Linked DNA regions of Homo sapiens: all the other regions are linked to region 3. Evidence: fine-mapped expression QTL. A gene starts in region 3. Each other region holds a variant in brackets. All regions are shown on one strand. Distances are from middle to middle. Region 1 overlaps WDR91 (WD repeat domain 91). Region 2 overlaps STRA8 (stimulated by retinoic acid 8). Region 3 holds the start of WDR91 (WD repeat domain 91).

Region 1 (10,355 bases), 24 kb after region 3:
AGGGCCCCTGTGGTTGATTATTTAGGAGAGGACTCGTGCCTCCCTCTGACATACTGTTACCTTAAAATTGTATGAGAATTATAGCAGCAGCAGCCAGCAGTAGCAAGGACACATACAGATTCGTAAGAAGCGAGGTGACCAGACAGCCTGTGAACTTGCTCCCAGGGGACCTGGGCACCACCTCAGAGCCAAGGACCCCTTCCTTCAAGACAGTAATAGATGCTGCAGCTGCCACCCTGAGCCCCAGAGAGATTGAATGATGCTAAACTCACCTTCCAAGGCAGTGCTACTTCTTATTAAAATGATTCGTTTCACTGCTTACAAGTCATATGGCCTTTATGTTGAACACATTGTTTCCTGATGCTGCTGGAAGCTCAAGGCTCCTGCTTTCAGTGGGTTCCTGTTCCAGATGTTCAGTTTGTTCTGTTCTGCATCTGCCTGTAGAAGTGGTCTGTGTTCCCTTTGGGTCTGTCAGACCTCTCAGGCCCGTCAGGGTCACACTCGAATTCTTGACCTCCACCCCTTGCCACATCCATCCCTCCCCTCATAATTTTCCTCACTTTGGCAAATGTGCCTCACTTAGAAATTGGGGATCTTGGCCAGGAGCAGTTGCTCATGCCTGTAATCCCAGCACTTTGGGAAGCTGAGGCAGATGGATTGCTTGAGGCCAGGAGTTCAAGTCCAGCCTGGGCAATGTAGTGAGCCCTTGTCTCTACAAAAAACTTAAAAATTAGCCAGGTGTGGTGGTGCTCACTTGTAGTCCCAGCTACTTGGGAGGCTGAGGCAAGAGAATTGCTTGAGCCTGGGAGGTGGAGGCTGCAGTGAGCTGATGTGGTGCCACTGTATTCCAGCCTGGGTGACAGAGTGAGACCCTGTCTCAAAAAAAAAAAAAAAAAAAAAAAAAAACACAACAGAAATTGGGGTTCTTCCCAGACCTGTCTTTTTCCCTCTGCTCACACAGTCAGTCCATAAGCAAATGCTGCCAGTGTGTTTCCAGTCTGACCACTTCTCTGCATTTCCAGGGACATACTCTAGACCTATCTCTCGTGCCCCTCCCTGCCCACTGTCCTCTCCACCAGTTTAATTCAATTCCTCTTAGTTCATAGCATCTTGTATTTTCCTCCAAAGTTCTTATTACAATTTGTAATTATATGTTTACTTGTGATTTTCAAGTTTTTAATTAGACATTGAATACATACAAAAGCATATTGAAATCATAGGTGTATAGTATAATGAGAAGAAAAGCAGTACAGTGAGCACCCACAGACCCATCACAGTTTATACAGAACATCACCAATACTTTTTAGCTCTTGTGTAGCCCTTCCCAGTCTTGGTCTTTTTCCCTTCCAGAGAGAACCTGTCTTGAATTTTGTCATACTGTTGCCTTACTTTTTTTTTTTTTTTTTTTTTGAGATGGAGTCTTGCTCTGTCACCCAGGCTGGAGTGCAGCGGCACAATCTCTGCTCAGCACAACATCCGCCTTCTGAGTTCAAGCAATTCTTCTGCCTCAACCTCCTGAGTAGCTGGGATTACAGGTGCCCACCACCACACCCAGCTAATTTTTTGTATTTTTAGTAGAAATGGGGTTTCACCATGTTGGCCAGGTCTCGAACTCCTGACCTCAGGTGATCCACCCACCTGGGCTTCCCAAAGTACTAGGATTACAGGCATGAGCCACTGCACCCGGCCTGCCTTACATTTAAAAAATTACTTTATCATGTCAATTACTATATATCCCTAAACAACCGAATTTTTGTTTTGCAGGTTTTCTGACTCCATATGAATAAACCACAGTATATGTGTTTTTCTAGAATAGCTTCTTGTATTCCAGGCTGAACACTGCTTCCCTAACCTTGTGACTTGGTCCATCCTCTGGCTGCCTTTGCTGAGACCGGGACATTAGCTCTCCATGTAATTGGCATTCCTTTGTTGTCTTTTCTCTCTGGCTGCTTTTAAAATCTTACCTGGTTCTCTGGATGTGGATTTTCTGGTTCTTAACTTTTGAAATTAATTTTTTTGAAGTTTTGCTTGGGATTTGTTTTCTGAATCAGAGGATTTGTGTCTGTTCAATTCTGGAAAATTCTCAGTCATCATTTTTTCCAGTATTGCTGTTCTCTGATCATCTCTTGCCTTCTGGAACTCCCATTCCATATGTGTTAGAACTTGCCTCTTCCTCTTTTTTGTTTCACTTTGCTGCATTCTTGATAATAGTTTCTTCAGATCCATCAGTTTGCTAATCTCTCCTCTACTATATCTAATCTTCTGTTTCATCTATTTATTAGGATGGTAATTTCAGTTATTGTGTTTCTCATTTTTAGAAGCTCACCTTCATTTTTTAAAACCTGCTTTGTCGTGTTTATAGTCTCTCATTTTTACCCATATTTTCAATTCCTTATTTTATTTTGTTGAACAATTGAATGTGCTTGTATGTTCTCATTATAAATCTAATGTCTGAAGTCTTTGTGGGTCTGATTCTGCTCTGTTGTCTCTGTGGGTGCTGGCTCCTTTTGCCTTATTTTCCTGTTTCTTATGAATTGTGATCATGGTGTTTTTTGGGCCAGTATCTCTGAGAATATTTTGAGGCCTGGGTTGGAGGTGCATTTCTTTGGATTTGCATTAATTTTTGCCAGGTTCCTCCCACGTCAGGGCTAGTTTGTGGTTATGAATTTGCAGGGAGGTAAGTTTTCTTGTTATCCCTTTCTGTGAAGTAGGTTTGTTTCTAGTTCATTCCTGCACTGAAGGTATAGCTCTTTGGAGTCTCAGCTCCATGTGACGGTTTCTTATCGCCTGACCTTGGGCAGATCACACATGGTTGTCTCCAGGCTCCTGAGCTCCTCATGGGTAGCAGAATGGGAACTTGAGTCATCTGGATCTGATTAATTCCCCATAGTGAAAGCCGGCTTTGGAGTGCACTGGTTCTCTGCGTTCTTGCTTTCTCTTAGTTGTGGCCCTAGAGGATTCTTTTATTTGCTAGCTCAGTACTCTGTGTGTATTTTAAATAACATTCTATCTTGCATTTTTAATTTCAGGAGGATTATTTAGTGTTCCCAGGGTTTCATATTGTTTGAAATGATAGTGTTCATTAATTATGTAATTAATAGACATTATGTTCTATGAGGTGGTTTTGTTTGCTACTATATTTCTGAGTGTTTCTGTGGGGAGCCATAGGGCAGGTTTATTAGTGTTGTCTGTCATCAAAGGCAGTTGATGAAGTGTTATTTTCTGAGGGCATAAGACTTTTCAATGAGAATTTGCTTGGAATGCATTCTGGGTGAAGTGTAGGTTGCTAAGATATGTATTATTTCTTTTATAATGGAGCAAGCATGGATTATCATTTCTCTATGGAAACCAGAATGTATTTAGGCACAGAGAACTTGTTCTCAAAAGAGCACAGAAGGTCACTGGCACAGCACTTTGGCAAAGGCTCAGATCTACATTTCCAGATTACATAAGGGAGGAGCTGGTGGAAAACCCAGTCTGGGGCACCTGTCTGCATTGGAATAAGCAGCGTGCCTGGGCTGAGTGAAGATCTGCTACTGACATTTTTGTTTTATTTCAATAGCTCCAGTTCTCCCTGGATCCAGAACCCATTGCTATCAACTGTACAGCCTTCAATCACAACGGGAACCTGCTGGTCACAGGGGCAGCTGATGGCGTCATCCGGCTGTTTGGTATGCAAGTGTGCTCATAGCAATCCTTGATCTCCTTAGATTTCCCAGGCAATTTTTTTTGCCGACGTTGGATTTTTTTGCCAGCTGGGCTAGAGGCTTTTGCAAAACCCTGACTTCAGATGCATGTACTACAGCTTAACTTTGGTCAACGTTTTCAAAACACCCACCGTAATAAACTCGCCCATAGTTAGTGTCAATAGACATGGGAGGGGGTGGAGCTCAGCGGTCCTTGAGTCTTGAGTTGTTCCATCTGAGTCCTTGTCACCCATGTGAAATACAGGAGGGCATACAAGAGTACTGCTGTCCTACCTACTTGCTGTGGGTAGTTGATTCTCAAAAGCATCAGAACAGTGCTCCTTAACCAGAGGCATACATCAGAATCACCTGGCATGCTGTGTAGAAATCCCCAGGTTGGGCTCTGTCCCCAGGAGACATCCCCAGAGCCTGGGCTGGGGCAAGGCAACTGTATCTTTAGGGGATTCCCAGGGCACATGGGGAAGTTACAGAGGGGAGTTTCTCAGGTGTCTTCCTAGACTTAGGGCTCCCCAGGTGAGCTCCCCCCAGGGACTCCTGAGCCTCACTTCTGACCTGGTGAAAGAAGCTGCCTCTGAGGCTTAGAAGCAGCCTGACCTCTTGGGCAGGGGCAGCTTTATGGCGCTCATTGGGTCCTGGGTGCCTGCCCTTGGCTTCCAGAACAGCTGTCAGCCTGAGTAGAGGGTGAGGGGGCCTCCTGCTGCAGGCAGATTCCTTCTGCAGAGCCCTGGCCAGGATGTGAGTGGCCGTGTCTCATTGCCTCAGACATGCAGCAGCATGAGTGCGCGATGAGCTGGAGGGCCCACTACGGGGAGGTCTACTCTGTGGAGTTCAGCTATGATGAGAACACCGTGTACAGCATCGGCGAGGACGGGAAGGTAGGCGGCTGCAGGATTCAGATAAGAGAGCACCGGGATGACATGTGGGCCGGCTGCAGGTTGTGGCCATACCTGTTACTAGCTCTGCAACCTGGGGCCTCTTTTTGCAGCTTTGTTATCTGTAGAATAGGGATAAACTAGTAATTCGTCTTACAATCTTTGCGAGGTTTTAGTGAATTCAGTGGGAGTTGGCTATCCTTATGAAAGGAAGTACCAAAAATTACTCATCTTACCATAGATGTATCTGTGGGGTCTGGATTTAGGGCTGAGTTTGCTTTGCTGGGCTTGGTAGTGAGTGGTCCCAGGACCACTCATGGATGTGTAGTTTGCTGAGTGGCTGGGTACAGCTTCTTAGATGTGTACAGACCCCAGCAGAGCCCAGAGATGTAAACAAGAAGCCAGAAAAAAAGGAAAAGTACATGCCCCTGGTAGATTCCCTCTGTGGAGGGTTAGGAACTAGGAATAGTGACTGCCTCAGAGGGGGAGCTGGCAGGGGCAGAGATGGGAGAAGGATGCCCTTTCCATGTGTGCCTGCCTGGACTTTTGGGATTGGACACTGTCTATCTTTTTATCCCTTGAAAGGAGTAACTACAAAATAAATTCTTCATTTGAAAAGTTTGGGAAGGGACTTTTACATTAAAGCTCGACTTCCTTGTTATGTGGGATGCTCAGTGAAGAGGTGGTCACAGCCAAGTATCCTGTCCGTAGGGTAGGCTAAGGGATGATGTCTGCTATGATAAGAAGCTGAGTTTATAATGGCATCGCCCAGTGTTCAATTGATTATATGCCTGAAACACTGGAAATATATGTGGACTTTGTCCTCTGTACCTTGTTCCTAGGATAGAAAAATCTAGTTGGGGTCTAACTCTGATAATAATAATAATAATATGTCACTTGAAGCATTCCTCCTGCTTGAGAGACCAGGAATCCAGGCAAAGCCACTTGCTGTCCCTTTTCCTCTCCTAGGGTCAGGCCAGAGAGAAAGAGAAGGGTTGGACTTTAATGTGAGGTTGCTGCCTCTTTTTCTAGATTTTCTTCCCTAAAAAATGCTTAAATCATGTTGACCAGAGATAGGACCTGTAGACCTCTCACCCACTTTTCTGCCTCTGGCACTTGAAAGGCTTTTCAAGGATGTCAGCACTGTGGCTGGGGGAGGCGGGTCGCCCTCGCCAGCCTCTGCTGTGGGGTGGGTCCTGGCTCTTCCTTGAGGCCTGCATTGGCCAGCTCCGCTGCGAGCACCCTGCTTGTGCCCTGTGACTGCAGTTCATCCAGTGGAACATCCACAAGAGTGGCCTCAAGGTATCCGAGTACAGCCTCCCCTCAGATGCCACGGGCCCCTTTGTGCTGTCTGGATACAGCGGCTACAAGCAGGTTCAAGTCCCCAGGGGCCGACTCTTCGCTTTTGACTCGGAGGGAAATTACATGCTGACATGTTCTGCCACAGGCGGCGTCATCTACAAGGTAACTGATGGTTGGGGGTGGGAGGTAGTGGTATTGTGGTGGGCAGGGGTTCCTCCCTGGAGGTCTGGGCCATGGCTACTGAGCGAGGCCCTCTACCCCGAGCTGCATGGCTGTGGAGATGCCTTTGACAAAGGATCGCTGGCTAGCTAGTGCTGGGGTTCAGAGGAGAGCCATGTTTCTGCACTAACTGAAGGCTCCCCTGTGGCCAGCACTGTTCTGGGTGTGGCAGGCTGGCCCCCCGGCAGGAGAGAGCTGCCCGAGGCCCTGCTCTCCTGCAGCTTGCATTCCCCAGTATGGGACATGAACCTTCAACAAATAAGCAGATTCATGAGCACCTGCCAGGTAGTGAGAAGTGATGCTGTAGTGAGAACAACCAGTGTGCGTGCAAGAGGCACCAGCCCACAGCAAGTTCAAGGCAGCTGAGAAAATGCCTTTTTTTAAGGAGCCGCTCAGGGACTTGTTTTCCACTTCAGATGGACCAGCTGTAGTTGGGAAAGTGCAAGCATTTCCTGGTTCAAAAAGTTAAACAGACTTTCTGGAAAGGTGGGCATGTGTGTCTGGCCTCAGGCACATCCTCAGGTAGGCCACTGAAAGTGGATCAAGTGTGTGTAACTGGTGTTTGCTGACACCTCCTCCTCTTTCCTGTCCTCTTGCAGCTGGGTGGCGATGAGAAGGTTCTGGAGAGCTGCTTGAGCCTAGGTGGCCACCGAGCCCCTGTGGTCACCGTGGACTGGAGCACTGCCATGGACTGTGGGACCTGCCTCACCGCCTCCATGGATGGCAAGATCAAGCTGACCACCCTCCTGGCCCATAAAGCCTGATGACTTGCCCCAAGGGCCACCCGAGGAAGCAGTATTATCTGCGGTGGGGGGAGGAGATATAGGACAGGAAAACCACGTGCTCCACTCCAGCTCCCTGCCAGTGCAGTGACTCTGCAGGGAAAGACTGGCAAGGAGGCTCAGGTGCTTCCATCTGTGGTGACTGGAATGGGACCCACGTGGAGTAGGTGACATATGCTTCCCAGAGACTGGTATTGTGGCTGTGCCAGGAGTACATGTGAGACTATGGGAGGAAAGCTCCGGAAGAAGGAGAAACATTGCAGTGGCTACTGTGTTGGCCCAGTAGAAATTGACAGTATTTTGTATATATGTGCCCATTTATCTTTTTCTTTTTTAAAAAAAGAGAATACTCTTGTGGTCCCCTGATGTCTCTTTCTAGGATGTGTGTCACTTTGCTTCAGTGACAGCCCTCCCACCCAGCCT[G/A]GCTCTGCTGGCCCTGAACTGAACCTCTCCAGGCTCTCCTGTTGCTTTGCCATGGAGCCAGGTCAGCTCTCTGTCTGTTCTGCTGGGTAACAAGGTTTGGCAGTTCCTGTTTCTCTGGGCTTAAGTCAAGGCCACAGAATTCTTTTTCTTCCCTGAAAGCTGGCAGCTTTTGTTACAGAAGATTCTCAGGATGAAGGCAGGGGCTGAGGCCTCTGCTACTGGCTGCCCCTTTCCATCCAGTGGCTGCTGTTTCCCAAGACAGGCTAAGCGTTTCTTATCTGAAATGCTTGGGACAGGAGTGTTACAGATTTTGGATTTTTTCAGACTTTGGAATATTTGCATATATACATAATGAGGTATCTTGGTAGGTCTCATGTCTAAACATGAAATTCATTCATGTTTTATATATACCTTATACATGTAGCCTGAAGGTAACTCTATACAGTATTTTAAATAATTTTGTACATGAAACAAAGTATTGATTGTGGTCAGGTGTGGTATTTTCCACTTGTGGTGTCATGTTGGTGCTCACAGTTTTGGGGCTGGGCACGGTGGCTCACGTCTGTAATCCCAGCACTTTGGGAGGCCAAGGTGGGTGGATCACTTAAGGTCAGGAGCTTGAGACCAGCCTGGCCAACATGGTGAAACCCCATCTCTACTAAAAATACCAAAATTAGCCAGGCATGGTGGCAGGTGCCTATAATCCCAGCTACTCTGGAGGCTGGGGCAGGAGAATCACTTGAGCCCAGGAGGCGGAGGTTGCAGTGAGCCGAGATCACGCCACTGGGAGAACCCAACTCAAAAAAAAAAAAAGTTTTGGGTTATGGAGCATTTTTGATTTTGGATCTTTGGGTTAAGGACGCTCAACCTGTACCTTTTTCATTTGGTGGCTCCTCTCATTCCTCCAACTGAACATCTTTGTGGAAAGATGATGGCTGCCTGCACCCACTGCTGGCGAATGGTGAGAAGGTAGAGCAAGGGGGCCAAGTTGCTGCTGGTGGGCACCTGGGGTTCAGGCCGGCCCAACTGTGGCTGAGCCGATCTGTAGCTGAGCTGAGTGTCAACCAGCTGTGTCCACACCCTGCCTGAGGCCTGCCCTCTCCTCCCTGGCTGGGGTGGGACCTTGAAGAGGCATATCTTCCCACTAGGTGAGGAGGAACAAGAGCCTCACTCCCCTTCTCCCTCTTGCCTTTCACAGCTGAGGCAGAGCTTATGGGAGGAGTCACTATGGGAGTGATGGACCTGGGCTTTGGTCTCCAGTGTTTGGCAGGGGCGACCTTATCACTGAGCTGGGGAAGGCAGCTGCCATGAGTCATTTTAAGTCTCTGAGCTCCAGCCCAGTTCTAGGGGCACAAGGCTGGAGTAGGGATACTCCTAGTTACCTGCTTGAGGAAAAGCACGAAGAAATTGGTACCAAAGTCTTGGCTTTGTTCTGGGAGTTGAGGGAAAAGTAGGGAGGTATTTAAGTGGCTTGATTATGAGAAAACACCAGAGACAGTAGTAAATAGTTATTTACCGATTTTTACCCATTTCTACCCTGGTAATCCTCCCTGCAAATGAAGAAAACCAAGACTTCTTTATTTATTATCTTTCCCCATCTGTATTGAAACAGTGATCTTACTTATCTCACCCAGTGATTCTGTAGGACATTTAAAAAGTGGTCATGGGTTTCATTGGAGTGAGAATGGTATTAACGTTTCCTCTTGTCATCTCAAAGTTTTCTCTCCCCTTAATACCATCTCTACAGCTTGCTGAGATGCTTTAAGGATCACAGAGACACAAAGAAAATTTGAACCCTACGCTTCTCCCATCCCACTTCTTACTCCATCCCGGGTGAGCGCTCGTCCTCAAATAAAGCATGTTGGAACTTCCGCTTATCTCTCCTTCCATAGACCTGCTTGGCGTCTGCTTAAGAACCCAAGCAAGACTCTTCCATTCTCTTGGTTGAGGGTGGCATAGAAGAAAACCTCTTTCCCAGTCCCAGCCTCAGTTCCCAGCCCAGGTGTGGACCCTCAGCTCTGGGGAGGGCTGCACCGAGAGCCTTGCAGGTGCACTTCCCCATTTCCTCCCTCTCTTCAGATACCTGCCGGTATTTGCCTCTTCTGCTCCATGGCCTCAGGCCTTGGCTGTGTTCTGCGAGTTGAGGGAAGCATTTGAATGGGGAGGGCCTCATAGCCAGTCCCCATTTAAATGCTTTAGGAGTTCAATGTAATCTTTTGAAGTATGTATACATTGTGGAATACAGACAATGTAGAATGATTAAATCTAGCTAACTGACACGTGCATTACCTCACATGATAAACAGCAGTTTAGCTGTCAGTTAAAAAAAATCCCCCAAACCCCCAAATGCTTTGGGTGCTGACTCTAATCTGTGCAAATCACACAGTTCAGATTCCTGACCCCTGCCTGGGGCAGGGAGCATCTCTCCCTTCAAATAGCTCTTTTCAGCTGGCTATGGAAAGAGGTTTTAAGGAGAGAAATGTGCAAGGGGTGGTTCTGTTAAAGAAAAACTTAGTCAATGATACTCGTTAAAGTACAGTAAAGACTACTATCTTGATAGGTATAGGGACCACTGCAATGGAGTCTTGCATGTGGGAGAGAGATTGGGCTCAATTCCGAATACAGCGTGCACAGTGGGAATTCATAGCCAAGGAGCAGGGTGGAGGTCTGTGAATAGAAAATTACTAAGAGGAGCCATCAGGGTAAGAGAGATTCTGGTGAAACTGACCTAACAGGACTCTTGCTGAATACAGGCTAGGGTGATAGGCCACTCGGGGATGGTGGAGGGTGAGGAGCCTGATAAGGCTTGGAGGGTGATCAGATACCGAGGGGAAAGGGGTTTTTGCTAAGACTGGATTTTACAAGGAAGTGCACAGACGGGCCTTGCAGAACACTCAGAAGCCTGACCGAAGCTTGGACTAGTAAAGCCTCTTTGTCAGTTCCAATTGCCAAGGATTTTTTTTTTGTTTCCATAAGTGGCAAGGCAGAATAGCCAAGTATTTTCTGTTCCTTTATTCACAAGGAAAAGATGCTTTTCCACCCCAGCCCAT
Region 2 (10,859 bases), 43 kb before region 3:
CCCACTCGGTGCGGTGATTTGTAAGCTGTGAAGGGCTTGCGAAGCTCCTATCCCTGCACACCCCGGGGGAAGTCCTTGAGTGCGGGCTCATGCATCTCAGGACTGCTTTGGAGTCACACAGGACTGGGTCTGGGTCCTAAGACTTAGCCGGTGTTTCAGACTCTCGCTAGGAGATAACACAGTCCAAGCCTTTGGGAGGGCCTCAGTGCAGGGGAGGGGCTGCTATGATGCCTTGAAAACTGTAAAGAGCCATGCAAGCCCATTCTCCCCGCACACCCTGCATTAGTCTGGGTTCTCCAGAGAAATAGAGCCAATAAGATGTGTATATACGTAGATACAGAGAAAGAGAGAGGTGAAATATTTATTTTAAGGAAGGGACCCATGCAGTTGTGGAGGTGCAAGTCTAAAATCTGCAAGGCGGGCCGGCAGGCTGGGAAGAGCCGCAGTTCAAGTCCAAAGTTGGACTGCTGGCAGGATTCCCTCTTTCTCCCGGGAGGTCGGTCTCTTTCGATTCAGGCCTTTAACCTATAGGAAGCATTCTGAGGATCATCTGCTTTACTGGAAGTCTCCTGACTTAAATGTTAATTTCATTAACAATACCTTCACAGAAACATCTAAAATAATGTTTGACCAAATTCCTGGGTATCACAGACTAGCCAGGTTGACACATAAAATTCACCCTCACCCCCAGTGTCCAAGCCCAGGTACACGTATGCACCCTTTGCCCAGAAGCCTCACCAGAAAGCCCTCGGAACCCTCGGACCTCACTGTAGCTCCTGTTCAGGTGACTTTATTACCAGGAGCAGCAGATGAATCTGGTTCCACCCAGCTGTCCTGTGGCACAGGGTTGAGGTCAGCACTGCCCCTGGCTCTCAGAGTGTGCAGGATGAGCAGGTGGGCTGTGGAACTCTCTAGAACCCATCAGGGCAATGCCCTGTGCCCAGGACATGCTGAAAGTACCTGGTGTTATGTCACCTCCGAGGACAGATCCTGCCTGTCCTCCTTGAAAGGCCCATGGCCTGGGCCCCAGCTGTACTTTCTACCCCCTTAATAGGAGCACAATAGCAGCAGGCCAGCCCTTTGTGCCAAACAGTCCCTAAAGACCAACACGAGGCCGTGCTTCTCTTATACTTTATAATAATCAGAAACTAAAATCATCAAAATGCTTCTGGAACAACCCACTCCAAAGAGTCCTGGAGGCCAAGGCAGGTGCAACCTTAGCTGCCAGCATTCAACCTTGGGAACTGCCCACCTCATTCAGTCCCTCCCCTCGCAGCTCCTCTTCTGCATTACAAATCTTCATCGTCAAAGGTCTCTGTGCACTGCAACATGATCATCTCTTCATCAACGGGAAAGGATGCTTCCTGCAAGACACAGGGTGGAAGAGGGTCACTTTTTATCTGTGGGTCTTGGGCCCGAGGCAGATAGGAAGGCTCCTGCATCTCCGGTGTGCCCAGCCCCCAGACTCTATCCTACGTCTCTTCCGCTGCATTTTCACCTCCAGCTTGGGCCAGGAAGCAAGGGCTCTAAGGGGGGAAGGTCCCATTTCCATTTCACTCAACTCAGCATTCTATGACCTCCAGAAAGGACACAGCAGAACTGGCTTCTTTTTTATCCTGGGGATTTCCAGGTTCCCACAAGAGAGACAGAGGACCTCATAAGGCTTTATCCAAATGCTCATCAATAGAAGACGGTGCACTGCACCACGGTGCTCCCACCAATGAAACACCATGCAGCTCATTTCCAACAAAAATAATGAGACAGCGTGCTCTCTGTGGGATACACTATTTACAAAGGGCAAAGTGCAAAGCAATGTGTACCGTAGGCTACTACTATTTGTGTTTGAAAGAATATATAATATCTGTAGAATATCTTTGGATGAGTGTACAAGAAACTGGTCACTGTAGTTGCCTCTGGGGGAGGGTATGGGGTAGGAAGCAAGGAAGAGAGAGAGACTAAGTGTCCATTGTATATCTTTTGGTAACTTGTAAATTTTATGCCATGTATATGGGTTACCTATTAGGAGATGATATTTTTTTAAGCAGCAGCACTGCAGCTGGTCATGATGGCTCAATGCCTGTAATCCCAGCACTTTGGGAGGCCAAGGCAGGCGGATCACCTGAGGTTAGGAGTTCGAGACCAGCCTGGCCAACATGGCGAAATGCTGTCTCTACTAAAAATACAAAAAAATTAGCTGGGCATGGTGGTGTGCGCCTGTAATCCCAGCTACTCGGGAGGCCATGGCATGAGAATCACTTGAACCTGGGAGGCAGAGGTTGCAGTGATCCAAGATCACACCATGACTACACACCATCCTGGGTGAAAAAAAAAAGCAGCAGCACTGTTTGCTTAGCAAGGGTTTCTCAGTCCCTAAAGGGACACTGTAAACAGTGATCCCAGCCAACACCTCAGGACTCTCCATGACTTCTTCCTCTAAAAATATGTTCCTGAGGCTTTGCTCCTTCTGTCTGTCTCCATCCTAGCAGAAAATGACCCCTGTAACTTGTCAGCCCTGCAGATCAGAGTTGATCCCCATGGAACCAGGTGGCATCCCTGACCCCAGTCAACCATCTAATGAATGTGGGACCTGGTCCCAAGGGTGATATCCTCATAGTGGGGACGACCTCCACAAACTGAGCCTTTCCTGCCCTGGAGAAGCAGTTCCCATTCACCATGCTCTCCTGATAGGGGCAGGGAAATAGGGATCAAGAGTGTCAGGGAGGTGGGACCACAGTCTCCAGGCAAATCTTGTGGGCCCCTTGTTCAGCAGGAAGACAGTGGCAGAGGTTGGGAGGAGAATGCAACTTTTCTGTTTACACCAGAGTCTATCAAAGCCTGAGTCCTCCTGCCCCAGAGCCACTTGGACAGCTCATTCCAAATGCAGATTTCTGGGGCCCGTTCTTGCAGCACTGAGGCATCGGGAATCTAGGAGTGCTGAAGTTTGGCATCTTTGCTTTGTTCTGTTGTTGTTGTTGTCTGGAGAGAGTCTCACTCTGTTGCCCAGGCTGGAGTACAGTGGCTTGATCTCAGCTCACTGTAACCTCTGCCTTGTAGGCTCAAACAATCCTCCCAACTCAGCCTCCTGAGTAGCTGGGACTACAGGCATGTACCACCACACCCAGCTAATTTTTATATTTTTTGTAGTGGTGAGGCTCTGCCATGTTGTCCAGACTGGTCTTGAAATCCTGGGATCAAGTGATCTGCCCACCTCAGCCTCCCAAAGTGCTGGGATTCCAGGTGTGAGCCACTGCACCCGGCCATACCTTTGCTTTGTATGGATACAAGAATCCCTGCTTGTTATCTTTTCTGCCATATATGGAGAAGGAGGGGAGGCAAAGATTGTCCTTTTCGTCTATTCTCAAAGTCTTGATAAAGTGGGCTAATTTAACTGTATCTGAGAGAAAGAGGGGACAACTGGTCCAGGGGACTGTCACCCAAGGATTGGTGGGAAGGGGAGAGCAAACTGCAAGGAAGGGCTCCACATAAGGATTCACTGTGGTCCCAGAAGAAGGAAATGAAGACTTAGTTGGAAAAGGGCAAGTTATACCTTAGCCTATTGAACAGGTGTCTTGACTATTTTTAGACAAACATTTGCTATTATTATAACTTACCTTTTAAATAAACAGTTGTATTATTGCTAAACTAGTAAAGAAAAATCCATGGCTATGAATTTGAAAGGACCTGTCCCCTTGTGGCTCAGGTATAACCCCCCTTCTCTGACAAAAGCTTCCAGGAATGGCCCTCCTAACCAAGAGTCCCACTGCTCATATCACTGTAAGTGGAACAATTTGGAAGCAGACATTAATATCCTTCAAAAGCTGACAGCAAATATTACCGAAGGTGATGAAGACTGTAGAAGATGATGAAATAGCCCAGCGTTTTGGGAAGGTGTCAAAGGTTCACACAACATTTATGAATGCCTGCTGAGAGTCAGGCCCCTGGGATCGGGTTCCTGCTTCAAAGGGCTCCCAGTCAAGGTCTGCCTTAGAGCAGTGGTTCCCAACCTTTATGGCACCAGGGACCAGTTTCACGGAAGACAATTTTCCCACAGACCTGGGGGGCAAGGGTGGTTTCAGGATGAAACTCTTCCACCTCAGATCATCAGGCATTAGTCAGATTCTCATAAGGAGAGAGCAACCTAGACCCCTTGCATGAGCAGTTCATAATAGGGTCTGCACGCCTATGAGAATCTAACGCTGCCACTGATCTGACAGCAGGCAAAGCTCAGGCTGTCATGCTCACCCTCTGCTGTGCAGCTGTGTTCCTAGCAGGCCATAGATCTGTACTGGTCTGTGGCCTAGGAGTTGGGGACCCCTGCCCTAGAGGACACTTCTCTGTCTTTCCTGTTTCCCTGGCTATCTTCCATTCATTCTACAGGATGCATCAGGCTGAAGGTGACCATTCATGGAGCAAGCCAGAGAGAATGGAGAGTGTCCCTGCCCAGTGGCTCCTCATGGTATGATTGGGGTGAGTTCTGGTTAGGGCTGCCCTTAAGAGCCCTTTTTGCTATCTAAGCAAGGTGGGCAGAGGTACCACGGCCCTCTACTCCATCCTACCTGCTTTACTTGAGTGTTTGCACAGCTAAGGCCTTTAAAAAAGTTGATGATCTGCATATAGAGCTGAAACTTCTCCTCTGGGTTTTCTGGGTTGCAGCTGGCAAGCACTGAACTGACAACAGAAAGGAAGAAAAGGCAACAAATATTCAGGATCCTGATCTTTCAACTCTGCTTCCCCCTCCCCTGAAAGATTTGGGTTACAGTATGAACCAAGCACATGTAAATTCTCAGACAGCCCAGACCTCTCCTTGAAAGGTTTGTGTTACCTCTGCTCACATATCATGTCTGGAATCCCCTGGAAAATCGAGACTGTGGTGAGACTGGCTCCTGTGCCCTAATTTAGTGTTCTGAGCTGTGGCCACTGGAACAAGGGAACGAGAGTTCCTCTATCCCTCAATCTTCTGCAGAATGCCCCCACAGTTCTGGTTCCACTGTGGCTGCTGAGGCAGCTCTGGAGCACGCCGCACATCTTGAGTTCAGTTCACTGAGTTGCCACTGCTCAGTGGGTCTAACGTGGAACTCAAGCCCTGGTGCAGAAAGGAGGCCTGTTGTGCAGGCTCTTTTCCTCCTGCCTGCCTGGGACAAGGGGAGAAGCCCTGTGTGACTCGAGCTTATGTCACCATAAGCAGCACAGTTTGGAAGCAGACATGAAAATCCTTCAAAAGCTGACAGCAACTGTTATTGCAGGGCCTCAGAAGATGATGAGTTAGCTCAGCCTTTAGGAAAGGTGGCAGGGGCTCGTGCAACATTTAGGAATGCCCGCTAAGAGCCAGGCCCTGCAATGTGGACCCTGCTTCAAAGGGCTTCTTAGAGCACAGAGGCTGTGTGTCTGTAGGACAGCTGGCACTCACTCACTGTGAGTCAGCAGGCAGCCCTCACTTCCTCCCGGGATGAGGAACCCTCTGGCAGCAACCCCTGACTTTTCTAGGG[G/A]AAGTGGAACATTTTTAATAGGTTGTTTTTCTGTTCCATCAGCAGGGCAGGGAGTTCTGAATATTGCCTGGCAAGGACAGGCTGGCAGCTTCTCGATGGTTGTCTTTGCAGTCCAAGCTCAGCACAGAAACAGGAATGTGTCTTCCAGCCAATTGCAGCAAAATGAAACTCCACTCACAGCTGAGAAGCACTTGAGTCACTCTGTAAGGTCGATTTGGAGAGGACAAAGCCCTCCTCTGACAATCCCACTTCTCCCCAAGTCCATCTAGGCCTGGGTGGAACAGGGAGAATGGAGGGAAAATGTTGATGTGTGGTTTCCCTGAAGCTCTGCTGAAAGGCCAGCTGGGTTACTAGGGACAGCTGTGGCCCCAAGGCCTCACAGGCACCCATAGGCCAGGCTCCCCTTGAGAGGACAATGAGATATTCATTGGGATCACAAGGATATGTCCCTCTCACCCCCAAAGCAGAAAAATAAATGTCCAGGATTCTTTTTAGCCATGATAGCAGCACAGGTATCTGAAGAACCTGTGCCTTCAGGCTCTAAGACCACAGGTTTTTCAAGCAAAGCAGCAAGGGAATTTCAGTCCTAAAGGATTTCTCTCAGAAAACACACCTTTGGGACATTGTTAGTCACGCTGCTTCTTGTTTTAAAATCTTTTCACATCCTATTTTGTGTCTTCCCACTTCATGGGGTCAGCTATCCTTTTCTCCCCTCCTTCCATATCCGTTCCCATCAGCACCATGAAAAGCAGCAACCCCCCTTTGCAGAACTCAGAGAGTCCCCTAAACTCAGGGCCCATGCCTATTTGCATGTTGGCCCTTATTCTCTGTGCCCCAGAGCCCCCTCCCCGCCTTCTCCTTCCAGGTCAGCTGGGAGAACCTGCCCGCAAGCTGCCCTGGGTGCTAGAGACCGATGGATTGTGTTCTTCCGAAATTCATATGCTGAAGCCTAATCCCCAGGGTGATGGTGTTAGGAGGTGGGGGACTCCGGGAGATCATAGACTAGGGCATGAAGATGGGCCCCTCATGATGGGATTAGTGCCCTTATAAAACAGGCCCCAGAGCCAGGCGCTGTGGCTCACGCCTGTAATCCTAGCATTTTGGGAGCCGAGGTGGGTGGATCATCTGAGGTCAGGGGTTCGAGACCAGCCTGGCCAACATGGCAAAACCCTGTCTCTGCTAAAAATACAAAAATTAGCTGAGCATAGTGGCATGCACCTGTAATCCCAGCCACTCGGCAGGCTGAGGCAGGAGAATCACTTGAACCCAGGAGGCGGAGGTTGCAGTGAGCCAAGATCACACCACTGCACTCCAGCCTGGGTGACAGAGTGAGACTCTGTCTTAGAAAAAAAAAAAATTTTTTTAAAGAAAGAGGTTCCAGAGAGATTCCTTGCCCCTACACCATGTGAATTTTATCCAGAAGGTGCCGTCTGTGAAAAACCGAGCCTCTGACTCTGCTGGCACCTTGGTCGTAGACTCCCCAACCTCCAGAACTGTAAGAAATACATTTCTGTTGTTTATAAGCCATCCAGCCTATGGCATTTAGTATATAATGGACTTAAGGCAGGGATACAGCAGCCCTCAGTGGAGGTTAGCAGGACTAACACACACTGGGAATGGGGTGCAAAGTGAACAGATGAGTTTCCACAACCTACAGCTGATAACCTGGTATGTCCCAGCCCTGCGCCAGGATGGAAGAATTTTCTACTCTGAAGATGCCACAGATAGTGTCATCCCCAGGGCAATGACACAATCCTAGGACCAGCTCACTTCCAATCACAGAAAAAAGGTGGATCCCCAAGAATACCCACTGAATTAGGCACCAGATCTGATTTGGCTCTGTGTCCCCACCCAAATCTCCTGTTGAATTATAATCCCCATGTGTTGAAGGAGGGGCCTGGTGAGGGGGTGTGTGATTGAATCATGGAAGTGGATGTCCCCCTTGCTGTTCTCATGACAAGAGTTCTCACAAGATCTGGTTATTTGAAAAGTGTGTAGCACTTCCCCCTTCACTCTCTCTCCTGTCACCATGTGAGGATATACAGGTTTCCCCTTTGCCTTCCACCATGATTGTAAGTTTCCCCAGCCATGCCTCTTTTACAGCCTGTGGAACTGTGAGTCACTTAAACCTCTTTTCTTTATAAATTACCCAGTCTCAGGTAGTTCTTTGTAGCAGTGTGAGAATGGACTAATACAACACCCATCTAGGGACTGCAGAGGAGAGGCCCCTGAACACCCCAGCAGGGGTGCACACACACACACACACACACACACACACACACTCTCTCTCTCTCCCTCTGTCTCCTCTCTCTGTCTCTGACTTACCACATTCATGCACATGCAAACTCACACATACACACCTGCGCACACACAATCTCACATCCACCCACACAGGGGCACATGCTATCTCACACCCTCTTCCTCACCTGGAGCTAGATGTACTCGGAACCTCACTTTTGTCCAGGAAGCTTGCCACATCAAAGGCATCCTCAAAAAGGATCTGAAAGAAAGCACAACACTTCATGTGTTGGAAATAACTTGACAATTTCATGCTTGCCCTGGGCTGCTGGGGAGAGATGAGTGGAAAGGCTCTCTCTTTACACATACCCCAGAGGGCATGCATGTCAGAGCTGGGGCCCACACCCAGGGGCTCTGCTTGCTGTTCTTCCTAGGGGGTAAATGCTAAACTCTAGAGTGCCCAGGACAAACTGCCAACCCTGGAGGTGGCTGTGAGGGACAGGAAGAAATGGGGATTGTGATTCCTCTTGCCGACGAAGGTGGGAGCTCAGGTGTGAGATGCAATTACCAGAGCCTCAGTTTACCACTGAGAAAAACCTCATCAAAACTTCCCAAGGCGCACAGATTATTGGAGCCCAGGGTCCCCAGTCTAGCTGTCTCATGCCAGGACAGCTGAATCCAGAGGGTCAGGAAGGCTCTGGGTTAGGCTGCAGGCAGGCCAACTCCCAGGCCTGTGTCCCTTGCTAGCTGTGTGACCTGGGACAAGTTACTTCATCTCACAAATCCTCCTCTATAAAACAGGAATCACATTAGTGTCTACTCATAGGGCTATTCCAAGAATTAAGTAAGATAATGTATGTGAAGTATCTAGTTACATTTGAACATTATCCACTTTATAACAGACATACCTGGCACATAATTGAACATTATCTGCTTTATAAGAGACATACATGTTCATTGTGGAAATTTTGGAAAATAGAAACAGATCAAGAAAATAAGAATTACTGAGAAACAATCCCACCCAGATATCCATTGTTGACACATTGATCTAATTCTCTCCAGTCACTTCCCTAGGTCTATAATATATATTTCCAATTTGGAATCTTGCTATTTAGACAGTTTTTCATCCTGCTTCCCCCTAATGTGTTAGAGAATATTAAATATGTTACAGAAACATGATTTACACTTACATGACTGCCAGATTTAGCAAATACAAATACGGGATGCCTAGTTACATTTTGAATTTCAGATAAAGAATGAATAATTTTTAGTATAAGAATGTTTTGAATCATGCATGGGACGTTTTTGTATTAAAAATTGAACTGGGCATGCTTTACTTTAACTGACATCTCCTTTGCACTGGCAATCACGCCTAGGAGAGGAGAGGAAGTTCTCTGACCCTGAGTTGGCAGGTACTGGCAGGTTCCGCCAGGGTCTCTCCTCTCCTCTTCCCTTCCTGCAACACACAGCTCTTCCAAGAGGATTGGTGTCTGCCCTTTCTGTCTTCCTTCAATTGACTTCCTGGAACTGAATCCCTTGGGACTCTGGCCCCTCTCTTAGTTTTCCGGACATTTTCTGTTGTCCTTCTACTTGATATCTCTGTGGTCATTTCAAAGAGGATCTGGAAAGGGGCCACAGAAAGACCTGTGCTTCAGTGTCCATCAGCTCTGAAGCCTATCAGCTACATGTTGCTCCCTGGCAGGCCTGAAACAGGGACCCAGAACTGAAATCCCTGTCCTTAAGCAATCAGCCCACCAAAGTCGCAGGCCACACATTGTGCTCACCTGTGCAAATCCCCCTCACAAGCCAGCCTGAGAGGGGACCCCAGACCAGGCTCCACAGCCTTTCCAGAGTGCCACCACACTCACAGGGAAGCTCATGTCTGAACTGAAATGGAGCATTCCAGAGCCTCCTGGGCCCATCTGACCGTGCTGCTGGCCTCTAACACAACAGTTCTGCAGCAGAACCTCTCCAGGTGGACCAGGGGCTGCAGTGGTGTCACTGCTCAGCAGGAGTAACTGTGGCTTTGTCCCTGCCTCGGGCATGGGAGTTCTCTGTTCTGCCTACCTTATCGCCCAGCCCTGGCCTGGCCTAAACCTGGGCACAGCAGTGCAGGCAGAGCCCTGCTTCTGGCCACAGCTGAGGGAATCTGCTGCCAGCTTCCCTTAATACCCAACAAACATCAGCCCATAGGCCTCCCTGAAAAACCCAGAAAAGCTGTTTCCATGATTTGGAGACATTAGATTCTGGTTGTTTTCTCTTTGGATGTGTTCTTCCTGGGGAAGTGTTCGTGCTGGCACAGTCAAATTTGGCAGAATTGCTCAGGCATTTGGTAGATACTGTCATGCATCACTTACTGATGGGGATAAGTTCTGAGAAATGTGTCCTTAGGCAACTTTGTCATGTGAACATCACAGAGTGTATTTATGCAAACCTAGATGGCATATATACATATATTTATCTTTTCTTTTTTGAGACAGAGTTTTACTCTTGTCACCCAGGCTGGAGTGCAATGGTGTGATCTCGGCTCACTGCAACCTCCACCTCCCAGGTTCAAGCGATTATCCTGCCTCAGCCTCCAGAGTAGCTGGGGTTACAGGCACTCGCCACCACGCCCAGCTAATTTTTGTATTTTTAGTAAAGATGGTGTTTCACCATTTTGGCCAGGCTGGTCTTGAACTCCTGACCTCAGATGATCCACCCACCTTGGCCTCCCAAAATGCTGGAATTACAGACTGGCATCACCACGCCCAGCCCATATATTTATTTATATATATTTTTTCATATGGAAAACCAAAAATCCAAGTTCCATTACTGAATATCAATTATTTACCCTACTTGATGTGCAATGCCAATATCGAGTGCCATATATCAGGTTTCCATATATGCTCCATTATCATCTTATGTGACCACCATTGTATAGGTGGTCTGTTGTTGCCCAAAACATCTTTATGTAGCCCATGACTGTATTTTCCTTTCGTTTTCTTCATGTGAGACTCCAGGGCTTGGCACTTTGGGGCTGTAAACACATCTGTTTGGCTGCCCTTTCATACAAGCCTTGGGTATGAGGTCCTAATCTTCTGGCTTTTTTTGAGCCATCATGGAACAGAACGCATGTCTTCTCATGGTGGACCC
Region 3 (10,859 bases):
GGCGTGGTGGCTCATGCCTGTAATCCCAGCTACTCGGGAGGCTGAGGCAGAAGAATCACTTGAACCCGGGAGGCAGAGGTTGCAATGAGCCAAGATTGCACCATTGCACTTCAGTCTGGGAAACAGAGTGAGACTGTTTCCCAGTCTCAAACAAAAAAAAAAAAAAAAAAAAAAAAAAAAGAAAAGTCTGTCTCAAAAAGAAAAAGTCTGTCTCTCAAAAAAAAAGTCTGTCTCAAAAAAAGTCTGTCTCAAAAAAAAGAAAAAAGAAAAGAAATATCACTCTGTATCCCATAAATATGTACAATTATTACATGCCAACTAAAAATAAAAGGAAAAAAAGAAAGAAATAATTCAGAGAGATCCCGTTGTACCCTTTATTCAGTTTTCTCCAATAGTAACATCTTGTACAATATCATAACCAGGATACTGACATTTACTGATCTTATTCAAAATTCCCTATTTTACTTGTACGTGTGTGTGTATTTACTTCTATACAATTTATCATGTTAGGCTTGTGCGTCTATAACCACAGTCAAGATGCAGAACAATTCCATTGCCACAAGGATCCTTTGTGTTGCCCTTTTAAAAATCACAACCCTTCCTTCCTCACCCTCCTCCCACGTGCCCATCCGTCTTCATGGCCTTCACTAATCTGTTTTCCATGTCTACATTTTGGCTTTTCAAAAATGTTCTATACATGGAATCATGCTGTTGAAGGACATCTGGGTTGTTTCCAGTTTTGGCTATTATGAATAAAGCTTTGTGTACAGGTTTTTATGTAAAAATCTATGTTTTCCTTTCTCTGGGACAAATACCTGAGTGTCATTACTGGGTTGTATGGTATTTGCATGCTTAATCTTGTAAGAAACTGCCAAATTGGTTTCTAGAGTGTGAATCATAATTTTAAACACATTGTATTATAACTATTTCTCCAAATAATTAAATTATCTTAAAAAACAAAAACTTTGACAATTGCATAATATTACATGGGATAGAGGTAGCATGATGTATAAGATTTCCTCTAATGTTGAACATTTGGTTGTTTGAGATTTCTTTCTCCTTGTAGAAATCAGTAATAAGACTCCTGCATGTGGAACTGGTGTGTACAGACCCGCTGGAACTGGTTCCTGTAGTCCCCAGGAGTGACTAAGTTCTGAAAGGCTGATTTGTGCTAACCTCATTGCACAGGGGCCTGAAGAATATATCACGATGTCACTTTGTAAATCTGAATGAGACATATAACTGTCACACAGGGACTATTCGTGGTAACACTGGCATAAATGATATCCTTTCCACCTATGTTGGAAGACTATTGTAATCAAAAACTGCCTTTTAGTTTACCAGGAGGAAGACACTGGAATGCTATGTTTCCATGTAGTCAAATGCTGAGGACACAAATGGTCTTTTTGTGAGCTTTGTACCAGGAAAAGCGGAGTGGGATGCCTATCGGGGCCCAATTTTGGGATGGTCTAGTGCCACCTTCTCATTTTGGGGATGGCCTTGCCATAGGTCAGAACATAGGACAAGTGCCGGCTGTGTTGCAAATGAGCATGGGCCCTGCCCATGGCACTCTCTGGTTTCTGGGTGCCTGTGTTTAAAACCTCTTCCGACTGACATAATATTTATTTTGGAAGTGAATGTCCTCAACCAAGGCCAGTGAGCCTAATATCTTTTCTCTCTCTTTCCACTGATTTTGCATCCTTGGACTCTAAACCATCTTAGGTTGATTTTGCCGTTTAACTCTCAGTGGGAAGTACAATTTCTTCATTCCCAAGATCTTGGAGGGTAACTCACTGTAGCCTCTAAATACTTATACCTTTCACTATTGTAAATAACTTCCATTATTAAAGATAAGTTGCACTTTTATTAAAAAAAACCCCATTCTGCATAAATCTTATTTTTAATGTTTAAATTAATTTACTTTCTTTTTTAAAAAAATAGAGACGGGGTCTCCCTATGTTGCTCAGGCTGGTCATAACTTCTGGCCTCAATCGATTCTGCCACTTGGGCCTCCCAAAGTGCTAGGATTACAGGTGTGAGTCACTGTGCCCAGCCTTTTTTTTTTTCTTTCAGCTTATTTTTAAAATTATTTTTTTAAGGGAAATTAAAGAAATTAAGTGGGATCACTGGGCTAAAGAGTAGAAACATTTTGGAAGCTTTGATAATCTATAAATTGACTCCTAGAAAAGTAGCTCCTTCTGAAGCTTAATGACAATGCCCCTTTCATTTTATGTTCACCAACAGTGGGCAATACATTTTAAAAATTACTAATTTGAGAAGTGAAAAAGGGTATCTATTGTGTGTCACTGATTTTCAGTGAACGAAAGATTAACATATACATAGGCTGCCTCCTACAACAAGCATGAGGGCTACCAATAGGAAACCTGTGAATTACTGGATGGATCATTGTGGGCCATTTCCAGTTTTCAGAGGTGCTCATGACTTTTTAAGGAACTGACTACAGTAAGAAAAGATTTATCTACCAAAGGCTATGGCGATGGATGCTCTCTACTGAGCATGTAACTTGGCACTATCTATGAACCAGACAGTGGGCATCCAGCAGACAATGAATCTGCTAGTGTCTTGATTTTGGACTTTCCACCCTCCAGAACTATGAGAAATAAGTTTCTGTTGCTTATAAGCCACCCAGTTTATGGCATTTCTAAAAAAAAAAAAAATTGCAGCCCCAAAGGACTAAGACAGTGACATTTGAGCAAATGCGTGAAGGAGGAAAGGCAGCTATCCCTGTGGGTATCTTGGAGAAGACATTCCTGTAGAACAAACGGCTTGTACTTAAGCTCTGAGGAGCTGCCTTTCATTGATCAGAAAACTAATCTTAGCTGGTTTTACAGGCTCTGGTCTGGGAAGTGTCAGGGCAGATGGAGGTGGGGGAGGTGAGAACTATGGTTGCAGACTTCAGGTGCCCTTAGGGAAATCTACTTCACAACTTTCCTGTAGGTGGAAGCTTTGGTGGTTGCAACTTGTCCAAATTTTCCAAGTTCACTTTGATGATCTGAGATCTCAAAGTAGGAGTTGGTCTCCCAGTAGTCACAGTGGTGACTCTCCTTTCCTGCCCTTGAGGCAAGTTTAGCTGCCTGGAGGGTACACTTGTGGAGACAGGTAGGGCAAACAAAGAGGGCAGAACAAGGTCTGTCTCGTCCTGCTGTGGCTTGCCCTGTGCTATCTTTTTGGCTTTCTCTAGTGTAGATCAGAGCCCTTTTGGAGCTGAATTTCCATAGAGTAGGAGTGGAGGGTCTGAGCAGAGGGGCAGCAATGATTCTGAGTTGTATTTTGACAAACACGAAAAGTCATACCATTCGAGGGAAGGAGAAGGGAACACTCCATGCATTTTACCAATAGGCCATTCACTGTGCTAAGCGTTTTACATACACTGTCTTATTAAATCTTCATTACTACTGTGCAAGGTGGGTGTTATTGTCACCATTTTTTTTTTTTTGAGACGGAGTCTCGCTCTGTCGACCAGGCTGGAGTGAAGTGGCGCGATCTCGGCTCACTGCAAGCTCCGCCTCCCGGGCTTACGCCATTCTCCTGCCTCAGCCCCCCCGAGTAGCTGGGACTACAGGCGCCCGCCACCACGCCCGGCTAATTTTTTGTATTTTTAGTAGAGACGGGATTTCACCGTGTTAGCCAGGATGGTCTCGATCTCCTGACCTTGTGATCCGCCTGCCTCCGCCTCCCAAAGTGCTGGGATTACAGGCGTGAGCCACCGCGCCCGGCCTATTGTCACCATTCTGCAGAAGCAAGTCTCAAAGATATTGGCTATTTTCCTACTTACAAAAATACGTGCACCTTGTAAAAACTTCAACAATAAAAAGAAAGTAAAAAACAAGAAGTCCTTCATAGTCTCACCTCTCAGATAAAACCACTCCAATTGTCACTTGGTATCTGCAGGGGGTTGGTTTTAGGACCCTCCCTAGAAGACCAAAATCCATGGATGCCCTGATGTAAAAAGGCCTAGTATTTGCATCTAACCTATACACTTCCTCCTGTATACTTTAAATAATCTCTACATTGCTTATAATACTGAATACATTGTACATGTTATGTAAATTGTTGTTATGCTATATTTAATTTGTGTTTTTAAAAATTGTATTCTTTTTTAAACTGAGACGGTGTCCTGCTCTGTCACCCAGGCTGGAGTGCAGTGGTACAATCACAGCTCACTGCAGCCTCGACCTCCTGGGCTCAAGTGATCCTCCTGCCTCAGCCTCCCAAGTAGCTGGGACCACAGGCAGCACCACCACGCCCGGCTAATTTTTTTTTTTTTTTTTTTTTGAGACAGAGTTTCGCTCTTGTTGCCCAGGCTGGTATGCAATGGCGCGATTTCGGCTCACTGCAACCTCCACCTTCTGGGTTCAAGCGATTCTCCTGCTTCAGCCTCCCGAGTAGCTGGGATTACAGGCATGCGCCACAACGCCCGGCTAATCTTGTATTTTTAGTAGAGACGGGGTTTCTCCATGTTGGTCAGGCTGGTCTCAAACTCCCGACCTCAGGTGATCCGCCCACCTCGGCCTCCCAAAGTGCTGGGATTGCAGGCGTGAGCCACTGCGCTCCGCATTTTTTTTTTTTTTTTTTTTTTGTGGAGATGTGGTTTCGTCATGTTGTCCAGGCTGGTCTCCAACTCCTGGGGCCAAGAGATCCGCCTACCCTGGCCTCCCAAAATGTTAGGATTACAAGTGTGAGCCACTGCGCCCGGCTATTTTTTATTTTTAAAACTTTGGAAAAAATATTTTCAATCCTCGTTGGTTGAATCCGTGAATGCGGAACCCGAGGATGCAGAGACCCGACTGCATAGGAACTTGGTGTATAATCTTCCTGAATTTAAAAAATGTACACACATACATACCTAATTTTTTTTTCACAAGAAACCAGGACTATAGCGTACATACACTGCTATGAAATTTGCCTATCCTAGCAGTGCATCTTGGTTATCTTGCTGTGTAGCCAATTCGTCTTACTAATGAAAGCAGAGATTTGGGGGAGTTAGCGCTCTCTGAGGACACGCGTGTTGTGGCTTCACGCAGGTCACTCTGCTCTTAGGGCTCCAGCTTCCTCCGTGTAGGAGGAGGGCAGGGGACCGGGAGCTCTGCGATGTAACGCCAACCAACAGGGCGCCGCACCCCCTGCCCGCCTCGGGACTACCTGGGATGTTCTTAAGATCCAGTCTTGTTTGACGTGGGTGGCAGCCGCCACTTTCAGTAATTCAGACAAAGCCGCCGCCGGCGCCGCCAGGACCTCCCCTCGCCACTCCTCGGGAGGGGTAAGGGTGACTCGAGCGGCCAGGCGGGCTGGGGCTGGCTCAGGGGCGGGGCCTCGGGCGGGGAGCCGGCCGAGGGGCGGGGCCTCAGGCTGGTCGCCCAGTGCGTGCGGGCTGGTAGGCCTGTCGCGGCGTGACGTGCTCGGCGCCCGCGTCCGGCCCCGCCCCATTTCTCCCAGGCCCCGCCCCTCCGTCCCTCACCGCACCACCCCTAAAGACGCTAGCGCTGCGATGGCGGAGGCCGTGGAGCGCACTGACGAGCTGGTCCGGGAGTACCTGCTCTTCCGCGGGTTCACGCACACACTGCGGCAGCTGGACGCCGAGATCAAGGCGGACAAGGAGAAGGGGTTCCGGGTGAGAGGCCGGCGGGAGCGGCGCGGGCAGAGGCGGCCCGAGGGAGCCGGGGAGCGGGCTTCCCCCCAGCACTGCCTCCGGGGCGAGAGCGGCGCTGTCACTCGCGCCGGGGCGCCGGAGACCTCAGCGCGTCCGACCCCAGCTTGACGGATGAGGAACTGAGACCCTCAGACGGACAGGACCTGCCTGAAGCCGCCCCCCGAGTCAGGAGCATCGCCGAGGCTGGAGCCCCGATGCCCCGGCTCCTGGTCTAGGGTTCTGTCTCCACTCCAGCCTCCTTGGCCAGGATGGCGATGAGGTTTTAGGAGCCGAGGTTAGGTAGATGGTTGCGTTTTGGCAACAGATATTCGTGTTGGCTTCCAGTGGCAGTGGAAGCAAAGAAGTCTGCAGTCCAAAACGTTAGCTGCGTTCAAGTATCTGCGGTGTTTGTTTAAAATGGCCTCGTCAGGGACTCATCGGCAATTTTGCTTCTGCAGTTGTGGAAGACCTCATGGCACATTAGAGAAACCCAAACTTCCCCTGCTCTAAAATGATTTTCCATTGCGAGGTTCTTGGAATGTATATGTGTGTGATTTGTATGTTTGTGTGTACTGACTTCAATGAGAGGCAGTGAGCTAACAGCAAGAGCACTGGAGGGGAGTTAGGAGATCTGGTTTCCTGCCTGGCCAAAGTTAGTGGCTACTTAGTGGCAAAAGCAAATCATTTCACCCCTCTGGGCTTCAGTGGCCTGATCTATAAACTAGGGGCATTGGATTGGTATTGATATCCAAACCCTTTTCCAGATTCTGTACTCTGCTGTAATTGCTCCTCACAAGAAGGTGACTTCCTTGGCTGACACTCTGAGCAGCTACCACGGCTTCGTGGAACTTTGATGACTTGAAGGAGTCAGTCCATGCACCTCCTCATGATCCTTGGGATCTGGGAATTGTGGAGATTGTCTCATAGCTCTTCTTCACCCCACCCCCTTTTTTAAAAATGTGAGGTAACTGAAACTACAGTTAAGCAACACTGCCATTTTTTTTTCTTTTTTGACAGAAAGTCTCACTCTGTCGCTTAGGCTGGAGTGCAGTGGCACGATCTCAGCTCACTGCAACCTCTGCCTTCTGGGTTCAAGCGATTCTCCTGCCTCAGCCTCCCGAGTAGCTGGGATTACAGGCGCGTGCCACCACGTCCAGCTAATTTTTGTATTTTTAGTAGAGTCGGGGTTTCACCATGTTGGCAAGGCTGGTCTCGAACTCCTGACCTCAGGTGATCCATCCACCTCAGCCTCCCAAAATGCTGGGATTACAGGCGTGAGCCACGGTGCCTGGCCTGATGACACTGCCAAATTGATCAAGTAAGTCAGAGGCAGATCCAAGATCTGGAGCCAGATCTCTTAGGTTCTGGGCCAGAGCCCTTTTACACCTGAAATTTCCGTGCTTGCTAGAGGGTCAAACCACTTCTCTAACATCAGAAAATTACTGAAAAACCGTTGCATTAGTATGTTTTGAAAATTTTATAGATTGCTAACTTACAAATTTTTTTTTACACCCAGAAGCCATGACAAGAGGAAAAAGCTTTATTCCATGGAGGGGAGAATTCCCTTCTGTCCCTTACCACCTTCTCCATCCATGTTTCTCGCCAGGTGGATAAGATTGTGGACCAGCTGCAGCAGTTAATGCAGGTGTATGACTTGGCTGCCCTTCGGGATTATTGGAGCTACTTGGAGCGTCGGCTCTTCAGCCGCTTGGAGGATATATACAGACCCACAATCCACAAGCTGAAAACCAGCCTGTTTCGATTTTATCTTGTCTACACAATCCAGGTGCCTGTTGATTCAGGGGTTCTGCTTCCCTTGGTGGAAGGAGCTCTTTGATCCCAAAATAGATTTTCTTCCAGTTCCTAGGGAGGAATCTGTATGTGACTATGGGAAAGAGTGCAGCAGTTACAGTGCAATTATTTTTGACTGTTTTTCTTCTTTTTTTTCCTTGTCGTCATCTGTAGATCATCTGACTTGTCTTCCCCATTCCTATTTCCTTTTTTATGTTAAGCATGTAAGCTTAAAACAAAGGTGGTATTTTAAAGAATATAAGTAGCTGGGTTAAAGTTTGAGTAATAAAGATGATAGCTGACCTGGAGGAATGAGTCACTTAGTTATTTGAACATCAGCTAGGGATTAATTTTTAGGATGGGATTTATCATTAGAACTTCAGCTTAAACCAGCTTTGAAATGACAAGTTCCTTGAGAAAAGAGTGATGATTTCCTTTATATTATGGAATTTTATTTTGCCACTTACCTGGCAGGCTGATAGTCAAAGGTTGTCTGCTGTGCAATGATGAAGAGTCTTACCTCTGGATTTCTGTCTCTCCTCCCTCCTTGCTACCTCCTTGTGTCTTGGCAGACAAACAGAAATGACAAGGCTCAGGAGTTCTTTGCAAAGCAGGCCACGGAACTCCAGAACCAGGCTGAGTGGAAGGATTGGTTTGTCCTGCCCTTCCTGCCATCCCCGGACACCAACCCCACCTTTGCTACCTACTTTTCTCGACAGTGGGCTGACACCTTCATTGTGTCCCTGCACAACTTCCTGAGCGTCCTGTTTCAGTGCATGCATATCCTTTCAGTTGCCTGGGGCTGAAGGCCCAGCCTGAGGCACCCAGACCTCAGGATCAGTAGCCCGCTGGTCTCCATACAGGCATTTCTTCTACAAAAATGCCCAGGGACCATTTTTATGGGTCACATGAGGGGGCTGGACAAATTGTGGTTGTTTTTGTCAGTAAGCCAGGGAATCATAAATCTTAGTTCTGACACTGTGCTGCTGAAGTATTAGCTGACGTGTGGGCAGTGACAGTGGCAGCAGTGGGGTGCTAGTACTGGCTTTGTCAGCAGGCACTGGGGTTGGAAGGCAGCTGCTGCTTGGAGAAACCGGGCAGCCTTGAGAGTACCCTCTCTGTGCATGAAACGTGTTCCCGGGGATATACCTTTGCTGGGATTAGGTACAGATGAGAAGACTTCTTGGGTTGGAACTTCTGTCTGTGTTAGTGTTTGGGTTATTGTCTCTAATAGTAACTTCAGTGTTCCTCAAGTTGCCAGAGAACACAGTAGCTTTAAGAATATATATGCGGGTATTGGAGAGGGGGAATGAATGAGAATGCAGGTAAATAATTTACAGCCTACCAAGTGTACAAGCCAGAGCTCCCAAGGCCATTGTTCATGCTCCCTAGGCTGGAAATTTAGAGGAGGAGAAGGGAGTCTGGCTTGAATGGGGCTGGCTGGTGAGGCACTGATAAACTTGGGTGTTTAGAGGCCCACCCATGGGCAGGCGTTTTGGCCTCTGGGAGGAACACTTTCTGGTGGAGGTGGGAAGGGCACCTTTCCTGCCTTCACCCTTTCTGTGCCCCAGATGAGTGTGAATTCCACCCTTGCCAGAACTGCCTTGTTTCTTCCCCGTTGTTCCCTCTCTTCATCCTGAGGGCTCTCCAGTTAACTTTGTGGGCCCTCCAGTGAAATCGAAACTGTCACTCAAGATCTTTTCAGTGCTTCTCAAACTAGCTTACACACATATGGGCTCTAGTCCCCTCTCCAGTTCTGAGGCCCTGTCTGCTCTGTGCTCCTCCTAACTGAAGCTGCCTGAGGCAGTGGAGAAGGACCAGTATCCCAAGCTATAGACTGTCGTTGTTCTTGGGGTGGCCACGCAATCTGCAGAAAGCTTTCTCTTCTCAGTCCAAACCTTTGCCAGGGAGAGGCTCAACCTGGGGAGGCGAAGCCAACTGACTGGTCTTTTCTGCCTCATTGGCTGTATTACTGCAGAGCCACTGGCCTCCAGGGCTGCTTTTAGCTGAATGTAGTGACCTCACTAAAGCTCAGACTGGCTGTGAAGTCCACTGGATGCTAGCTCTTTGCTTCTGGTATTTGAGAGAAAATGCTTAGGTTTGGATTTATGTCCCCTCTGTGGGCTGGCCAGGCAGATGGTCATGCGTCTGTGAATCTGTCCGAATGAAATGAGGCCAGACCTAGAGAAAGTCTTAGAGACAAGACTGTAGGGAGCGACTATTTCATTAAGCCCGCAAGAGCCCACAGCACCGCTCCTATACTCTGTTCTCTGTGTCCCTGTGTCTCATGTGTTTTACTGGTGTGTCAAGGGTTTGGGAAGGACGTTTAAACATTTCAGGGGCTGGCTTATTCTTTAACTTCGTGCACCAGTCCCTGTGATCCTGAACTTTGATGCGGAGTGTCAGAGGACTAACCAGGTTCAAGAAGAAAATGAAGTTCTGCGTCAGAAGGTTTGTTCTGAACAGGCTTGCTCCTGAGGAAGTACTTCTGCTTTTTGTGTGTGAAATTAGGTAGTGGCAGTGGAACACTATATTAATCAGGTTTCCACTGCCACTACCTAATTTCTCAGATGGAAATGAGTCACCAGAAAGTCAGTATTGGGGATTTGGAGAGTAACAGTCTCTGAAAACCAGAGGCGAGATTCATATTTTAAGTCAGATATGTAGCATGAACAATATAGTAACAGTAATTAACTTTTAAGGAGAAAAAGACTATATGCATCCATGCCACCTTATAACTAACCTGTTTTCATGTGTCTGTTTTGTCTTTCCACGTATAGCTATATATGTGTGTATATATATATACACATATATATGTAAACTATATGTATATATATAAACTATATATACACACACACACATATATATAGTTTATAACCCATATATAATTTAGTTGTTCCTACTCAGCTATATGCTTCTCTAGTTTGATAAAACAATAGAGCCAGGGGACCCACATTTGCCTGTACATGTTGCCTGAGGAACATTTCTCTTTCCTGAAATTAAGATCTCCTTAGGTGATATTGTTAGGAAAAGGAAGATTATAGGCTGTTTAGGTTATGGGGTTTAAGATTCTTGGGATTTGGGGTGTGTGTATATGTAATTTTCTTCAGGCAAAAGGTTAAAAACGCTGTAGTTCATTAACAGGTTTTTTTTTTTTTTCCATTCCAGAGTCAGGCTTTGAGAGTTCTAAAGCCTGATTTTGTAGATTCTAAAAAGCAAAACAGGTTGGGTGGAGCTATTTTTCTCAGTGAATCTAGGAGGAAGCAAGTCAAATGATTAAAAAGAAAATGGGTTTTGGATTTCTAATGGTTTTTGGTTTTCTCACCTCATTGTTGTCCAGTGACAGCAGTCACTTTTCCCAGTCTGCAGTGAGCAGAGTGAGATGGGCCCCTTGACGCTGAGGCGAGTGGCACTCAGA

What was found. PIP is the estimated chance that this variant, and not a neighbour inherited with it, causes the effect.
Region 1: its variant is fine-mapped to the expression of WDR91 in whole blood (TOPMed, PIP above 0.99).
Region 2: its variant is fine-mapped to the expression of WDR91 in whole blood (TOPMed, PIP above 0.99). The same link has a PIP of 0.9 or more in blood mononuclear cells, macrophages, monocytes, monocytes after LPS, monocytes after Pam3CSK4 and monocytes after R848.

Annotation. Positions count from the first base shown.
Region 1 is chr7:135,182,660-135,193,014 of GRCh38, reverse strand. It overlaps WDR91 (WD repeat domain 91), which reads left to right. Exons shown (of 15, transcript NM_014149.4): 12 at 3,563-3,671; 13 at 4,470-4,582; 14 at 5,846-6,043; 15 at 6,700-9,176. The coding sequence ends at 6,864. Among named protein-coding and RNA genes, the nearest start is that of CYREN, 17 kb to the right of the region's middle. RefSeq lists enhancers at 4,141-4,270, 4,311-4,530, 5,912-5,961. The variant G/A (reference allele first, on the strand shown) is at 7,306.
Region 2 is chr7:135,248,923-135,259,781 of GRCh38, reverse strand. It overlaps STRA8 (stimulated by retinoic acid 8), which reads right to left. Exons shown (of 9, transcript NM_001394401.1): 7 at 7,913-7,986; 8 at 4,557-4,668; 9 at 1,119-1,364. The coding sequence ends at 1,290. It overlaps LOC107984123 (a long non-coding RNA gene), which reads left to right. Exons shown (of 6, transcript XR_007060540.1): 6 at 1-2,069. Among named protein-coding and RNA genes, the nearest start is that of STRA8, 21 kb to the right of the region's middle. RefSeq lists a silencer at 9,099-9,249. The variant G/A (reference allele first, on the strand shown) is at 5,487.
Region 3 is chr7:135,206,153-135,217,011 of GRCh38, reverse strand. It overlaps WDR91 (WD repeat domain 91), which reads left to right and starts at 5,486. Exons shown (of 15, transcript NM_014149.4): 1 at 5,486-5,632; 2 at 7,257-7,436; 3 at 8,014-8,221; 4 at 9,810-9,892. The coding sequence starts at 5,510. It overlaps MIR6509 (microRNA 6509), which reads left to right and starts at 9,934; the gene lies at 9,934-10,018. RefSeq lists silencers at 5,244-5,783, 9,943-10,102 and an enhancer at 6,954-8,153.